2 linked regions of the Homo sapiens genome follow. The protein of the gene in region 1 interacts with the protein of each later gene in a pairwise test. Each region holds a gene or a part of one and is shown on either strand. Other genes may lie near its edges.

What was found.
Region 2: the proteins of TAAR9 (region 1) and SLC41A1 interact in binary tests that used the Homo sapiens proteins (3 or more experiments, as listed by UniProt).

The regions. Positions count from the first base shown.
Region 1 is NC_000006.12:132,536,371-132,539,910, forward strand, and holds TAAR9 (trace amine-associated receptor 9), read left to right. Parts: upstream 1-1,906; 5' UTR 1,907-1,919; coding exon 1,920-2,966; downstream 2,967-3,540. UniProt on the Homo sapiens protein: Olfactory receptor specific for trace amines, such as N,N-dimethylcyclohexylamine (DMCHA) and beta-phenylethylamine (beta-PEA). In contrast to mouse and rat orthologs, not activated by triethylamine, cadaverine (CAD) or spermidine.
Region 2 is NC_000001.11:205,799,540-205,803,289, forward strand, and holds part of SLC41A1 (solute carrier family 41 member 1), read right to left. Parts: intron 1,522-3,750; coding exon 1,414-1,521; intron 292-1,413; coding exon 220-291; intron 1-219. UniProt on the Homo sapiens protein: Na(+)/Mg(2+) ion exchanger that acts as a predominant Mg(2+) efflux system at the plasma membrane.

The sequences.
Region 1 (3,540 bases):
TACTCAAGTGTCTTGGCTTCCAGGAATGGGCCAGTTTTAAGACACTCTACGAGACTAAAGGCTGCTATTTTAGGGCTCAAGTATAAAAAACTGAGGAAAGTGGTCACTATCTTTTTGCACAACAGCATCCTCAATTGGGTGTTAGGGAAGTGGGGATTTTTAAAGTTTAGGAAAATAGCATTCTTTAAATAGACATTCAGAATCTCAGGCAGGGCACCACGTATGTGGCAGTGGTGGAATTTTTTTAGCCATTTTGAGAGTAAAACAAGAGATGCAGTGGACCTTAGGAGACCTGGGGAAGAAGAGGAGAACATGGGGGTATGGAATGTGATTTTATTGGGTAGACTGACTTGTGTGCACACAGATGCACTTTTCTGAGGAATCCTAGGAGTAACAAGGAGACATTTTGCAAGGAGGAGATTAAGTCTTGTGCCATCAAACTAGTGAGGGCTCTGGTAAGAAAGAACTGGGAAATAAAAGTAAAAATAAATTGATTTAAAACTCATAGATCAGTGAAGCCAGAAAATACTAGAGAAACCTGAAAATACCTGTACACACACCTGTATACACACAAACACACACACACAAAATTTAAAATTCACAGACTAGTGAAGCCTATTACCTAAAAACTGTAGCCTTATAAAGAAAAGCTCAGTCCTCCTCAGAGAGTTACAAGGAAAGAGTAGCCATTTATTTAGGAATATATTTGACTTATGTGTATGCATGTAACCTTTTCTAGGAATCTGTACTTTCAACAGAGCCCAGACCCATGGCATAGGGTTAATGCCAATAAAAGTAGTTCAGTCTCTAGCTCAAAGATTAAGATTCCAATGCAAGGTTGCACTTATTCATGGTTAAATGAAGTAAAACCATTCACTGTTGTTAGGTGAACTCTTTAAACCTTCTTAAGACCCTAAGCTTCAGTATACGAACAGACTCATACACCTAGAGAAATCAAGTTGGTCTCTATTTGCACCTTGGATGACTCAGCATGAATCTATTCTTCAAGGATATGGCTTATTTAAAAACATCCCTCCGGTCCACCCCAGTTTTTGTCTATTCTTCTGTGATAGGTTTAAAACTACACCGTTTTTCTAAGGATGGGAAGGTAAGATGTTAGGTGAGTTATTGCTTATTTTAATTATTAATTTTAGACACCTAACACTGCCTATTAGCCTGGAAAATACTTTTACACTGACTAATATCAGTTCAATAAGATTTTTTCTCTAAATCATCTCAAGCTGTCTGAATCGTGAAAGAATATGAAAAGAAAAAAAATACAAATTCTGAAAACATAAGTAGTAGAAGAAATGTGTTCCTAAAGTAAGTTTAAAGCTATTATGAGGAAACTTTTCCTTAATCTTCACACTCCATACCATAGGGATTTTGAAGGTATAGTTTGAAGGAGATGTAATTTACCTCTTCCTTCATGAATAAATGAAGCATAGTTTGTCATTACTGCTAAAGTGCTGCTCAGGGGAGATAATGTAAGAAATAAAGCTCAGCCTTTGATAGCCTAATTACTTCTCAACTGTGGTGGTTATAGATGAGATTTTTCAGAAGATAAACTAACACACAAGAAAATAATTTTTTAATGATTAGTAAATTTTATATATATATCTCATTGGACTAAGTGTATTGCCAGCCATTTAATTAGGAATATATTTGACTATATTTTTAATGGCTTTCTGCAACATATTTCCACTCTAAATATATTAAAATGTGAATGTGGGAACACTTTTTAGAAAGATCAAGACGTTATAGTTAATATGGAAAAGCACTGGTAGAAAAATCACAAACTTTTATCATTTTAACTGGAGATATTTTCCCCTCCTAGAAGACTTTGAAATTGCTTCCTTTTAAAAAAATTTTTGAAAGCAGGAATTTGAGAACTTTAAAATAGTTCAAACAAGAAAGCAATGGTGAACAATTTCTCCCAAGCTGAGGCTGTGGAGCTGTGTTACAAGAACGTGAACGAATCCTGCATTAAAACTCCTTACTCGCCAGGTCCTCGATCTATCCTCTACGCCGTCCTTGGTTTTGGGGCTGTGCTGGCAGCGTTTGGAAACTTACTGGTCATGATTGCTATCCTTCACTTCAAACAACTGCACACACCTACAAACTTTCTGATTGCGTCGCTGGCCTGTGCTGACTTCTTGGTGGGAGTCACTGTGATGCCCTTCAGCACAGTGAGGTCTGTGGAGAGCTGTTGGTACTTTGGGGACAGTTACTGTAAATTCCATACATGTTTTGACACATCCTTCTGTTTTGCTTCTTTATTTCATTTATGCTGTATCTCTGTTGATAGATACATTGCTGTTACTGATCCTCTGACCTATCCAACCAAGTTTACTGTGTCAGTTTCAGGGATATGCATTGTTCTTTCCTGGTTCTTTTCTGTCACATACAGCTTTTCGATCTTTTACACGGGAGCCAACGAAGAAGGAATTGAGGAATTAGTAGTTGCTCTAACCTGTGTAGGAGGCTGCCAGGCTCCACTGAATCAAAACTGGGTCCTACTTTGTTTTCTTCTATTCTTTATACCCAATGTCGCCATGGTGTTTATATACAGTAAGATATTTTTGGTGGCCAAGCATCAGGCTAGGAAGATAGAAAGTACAGCCAGCCAAGCTCAGTCCTCCTCAGAGAGTTACAAGGAAAGAGTAGCAAAAAGAGAGAGAAAGGCTGCCAAAACCTTGGGAATTGCTATGGCAGCATTTCTTGTCTCTTGGCTACCATACCTCGTTGATGCAGTGATTGATGCTTATATGAATTTTATAACTCCTCCTTATGTTTATGAGATTTTAGTTTGGTGTGTTTATTATAATTCAGCTATGAACCCCTTGATTTATGCTTTCTTTTACCAATGGTTTGGGAAGGCAATAAAACTTATTGTAAGCGGCAAGGTCTTAAGGACTGATTCGTCAACAACTAATTTATTTTCTGAAGAAGTAGAGACAGATTAAAAACATTACTGTAGAGACCTCAAAACTAACTTGAAATTAAGGTCAACTGCAAAAATAAACACTTGGACATAGAGAGGCAAGCATGATCATATGCCAAGTTGTAGGACAATACATTCAACAGTTGTTCTAAAGCATTTGTTGTCTTCATGTATTTTGACATATTTTAGATTTAGTGATAAGTGAATAAGATTTGCTGATTCTTTTCCATTTAGCATTCTTTTATGGTTTTCTGGTTCCTTACTTTCTTCTCTGAGATTCCTACTCGTATCTTCAAATATTTTCAAGTTTTGTAGTTTCTCCCACACTCATGATCAGTGTTCAGCTGTCCAAAATACACAAAGGGGAAAGTAAAGCTCCTGCTTTACTTATAAGTTAGATTCTCTGAGGACAAAAATCTTTGACGTATATCTTGCTTGAGAAGTAGACACAGTATTATAAATTCTTGAAACTTTATTTTAATGTAAAAAGACTTTATAGAGAGCTGGAATGCAGAACTTTCTAGTGCTCAGAGATCATCTGAAAAATGCTTGAGCACTTTTATTTTCTGAACCCTGGCAGTTCTTCCTGCTCATTT
Region 2 (3,750 bases), on another chromosome or scaffold:
CCACCAAGAACTGAGAACCAGAATGGGTGATGCTGGGCCCTCCTCATCTTGGGCGTTTTCCTGGGTAACCTAGTTACCTCCTAGAGCTACTCTGGGGGAAGCCAGCTCAGTGGGATACTGGAGATTCACTCAGGAGCCTGCTGGGGCTGACCTAAGCCTTTCAGAGATTCCTGACTAAGGGGAAGCTTAGCCCACCCTCTCTGGTCCCTGCCTTCTTACCTGGATGAGGGCCATGTTCCCAGTGATCATCCGCCAGAGCTCCTTGGGTGTGTCCATGTGTCCAATGTTGGCCTGGGAAAGGGAGGGCAAGGGGCTGGAGCTTCAGGCTGGAAAAGGCCTGAAGCTCCATCCATTAGGCTCCTGCCTAGATCATGAGGCAGTACATGTGGCCTAAGACTCTGAGAGCAGGACCTGACAGTCCCGGAAAGGTGAAGCAGGATCAGGGAAACTGAGGTGAAAGGGAAGGAGCTAAAGCTGGGCTCCTGCAGCTGGGTGGGGGGTTGGAAGGGGGTCCCCTAGGCAGTCGCCTCTCTTCCTCTCAGGACACCAGCTGAGCAGAGGCAAATTCTATCCTTTGCCCTGCTTATCTGGGCAGCCCATTCCTGCATGGGTCAGAACAACCCAGTCCCTGACTCTGAAGCCAGCCTGCGATCCCAGGGAAGGAAAGGTCAGCTGCTGGTGCAGGACTGAGGCTCCAAGAGTATTTGGGAAGGAGTGGGTGGCATGGGCCAGAAGTCGGGTATGGCAAGTCAGGGTGGGTTAACTTGGATGCCACTTCTGTCTGTCACCTTCTCTAGACTCTTGACCCTGCAGGGAGATCCCTGGCCTCCTGAGTTTTATCATCTCCCACCTCCAGCCCAGGGCCCTGTATCTGTTCAGGCCCGGAATCGTCACGGCTCACAACTGTGGGAGGTAGGAATGACGAGCAGCTCCTCTCTGTCTGTTTCCTTAAAGAAGAGCAAGCTGCCATGGGTAAAGGGAATGGGATGGCCGGGGGGCTGGGGGTGCTGGGAGGGCCTGGCTCTGCTCCCGCCCAGCTGCAAAGCAGGGGCTGGAGATCAGAGGAGGCCCCCATCTGTGCGGGTGGAGGAACCAGCATGATGCCTGCCTGTCAAAGCTGCACAAACAGTCACGAGGTGGTTGAGAGGTAGGGGGTGGGGCAGGAGTCCAGGGGTGGCTGGGACATCCAGAAACCAAGCCTGGGAACCACTTTGGGCAGGGAGCCCCTGCCCAGGAGCAGGACACCCAGCCTGGGATCTCCCTACACCTGCCCAGCCAGGCCCTCCCTTCCCACCCCAGCCCCACACTCCAGGCCTGGGCAGTGGAGAAGGGCTCGTAGCCCTCTCCCAGTCTCTGGCTCTGTGCTGCCCAGAGTCCTCTCTGTGCCCCACTCCTCCCAGCCAGGATACTCACTGCAGTGGAAAGCCTTGATGCCAGGGTCATTTCCAGGTTCCCTTTGAGCCCCAGCAGCGCAGGCACTAGGATGAAGACCTCTGTCACCTTCTGGAAGACTTCCCAGTGCTACGAGGTGAAAACAGAACCCAGGAATTTCAGTGCCCCAAAGGGCGGGCATTGAGGTTCAACAGGTAGTCTGAGATCAGGGGCTCGAGGAGGAAATAGAATCAGCAGGGAGTGAGCACGCCAGCCACCTTTCCTCCAAGAACCTTGGAACCAAACCAAGCCCATGATTCTTCAAACAACACAACCCCCCTTCCTGCCACCCAGAACCAGGGAGATGGAGAGGGTTTCTGCCGGTTGGGAGACTCTCAGTCTGGCCCTACCTTTTCTGTTTTCCTGGAGGTGGGTGGGGAAGGGTAATGGGGACCCACACAGCTGAGCTGCCCTGGGCTGCCTGACACCCCAGAAATCCTTTGCAATCCCCCCTCAAATTGCAATCCCTGGCCCCTTTGCCTTCAGTCCAGTTTCTCTGTTGTCTCAGCTGTGAAGAGTTGGGCTCCACAGGGCTGGGGCCGAGGCTGGGGAGATTAGAGAGTTTGTTTGGTTTCTATCTCCAAGGGCTTTGGGCCTCAGCCACAGCAACTCTCCTTCTGAACAGGCTCTGAATTAAGACTGTGGCCCCTAAACCTCTGAATGCTGGCCTGCAAGAGGCTTTTTATTTCTCTGTGCACTGCCTTACCCCCACACACCTTCCTCAATCTCTCAGCTAGGAGAAGCAAGTGTACTCCTGTAGGAAGAGCCCTGGACCGGGAGTCAGGAGACCTGAGTTCTAGTCCCAAGACAATCAATCCTGGCTCTCCTACCAATGTCTTTGGTTAACATCTATTAAGGACTGATTGTGTGCTAGGCTAAGTGCTCTCCATGTATTTTCTCTTTTAATCATCTTAACAACCCAGTAAGGTAGGGGCTATTTTTATTCTCATTTTGTGAATGAGTAAACTGGGGTTCAGACAGTATTCCACTAGTTAGTGCTAAGAGGACTGCAGGAACCAGGACTGGCTATTTGAAAGCTACTTTACTTGCAATTGAAACTGAGGACTTGCAAAAAGGTTTAGGATTGTGTCTCCCTCCCTGGCCCTAACAGGGTAGGTGGTTTCTTTTATTTGTTTTAAGAATGGAAAGCCTCCAGGTTTGGAGAGGGAGGAGGAGGCAGGAGGCCAGGCGGATATATATGGGTTGGTCTGCGTATCATGGCTGGGAGGCCAAGCACTATGTTTGGCAAGGGCACTGGACCAAGAGCCTTGGGTCTCCTACAGGAGACAGCAGGGATGGCCCCCTGCTTATCTCCCCAGTACACCTCCTCACGTAGACCGGCTGGACACCTTAGACAAGTTACAAGGGCCTCAAGCTCTTGAAAAATGTTCAATTCAGGGACCAGATCAGATGGTCTTTCAAGGCAATTCCAACACCCACACTCTGTCGTTAAAGATGAGCAGTGGCCGAGCGCAGCGGCTCACACCTATAATCCCAGCACTTTGGGAGGCCGAGGCGGGCAGATCACCTGAGGCCAGGAGTTTGAGACCAGCCTGACCAACATGGAGAAACCCCGTCTCTACTGAAAATACAAAAATTAGCTGGTCGTGGTGGCACATGCTTGTAATCCCAAGCTACTCGGGAGGCTGAGGCAGGAGAATCGCTTGAACCCAAGAGGTGGAGGTTGCAGTGAGCCAAGATCGCACCACTGCACTCCAGCCTGGGCAATAAGAGTGAAACTCTGTCTCAAAAATAAAATAAAATAAAATAAAATAAAATAAAATAAAATAAAATAAAATAGATAAAATAAAGTTGAGCAATACTGTAGATTAGTAAGAGATCACCTCACACTCATTAGGATGGTTACTATTTAAAAACCCAGAAAATAATCAGTGTTAGCAAGGATGTAGAGTTTGGGCTGGGCATAGTGGCTCATGCCTGTAATCCCAGCACTTTGGGAGGCCAAGGAAAGTGGATCACTTGAGGTCAGGAGTTGGAGACCAGCCTGGCAAACATAGTGAAACCCTGTTTCTACTAAAAATACAAAAATTAGCCGGGAATGGTGGCGCACACCTGTAATCCCAGCTACTGGGGAGGCTGAGGCAGAAGAATTGCTTGAACTTGGGAGTTGGAGGTTGCAGTGAGCCGAGACAGTGCCACTGCACTCCAGCCTGGGTGACAGAGCAAGACTCCGTCTCAAGAAAAGAAAAAAGCATGTGGAGATTGGAACCCTTGTGCACTCTTGGTGGGACTATAAAATGGTGCAGCTGCTATGAAAAACAGTACGGTGGTTCCTCAAAAAATTAAAAATAAAACTAC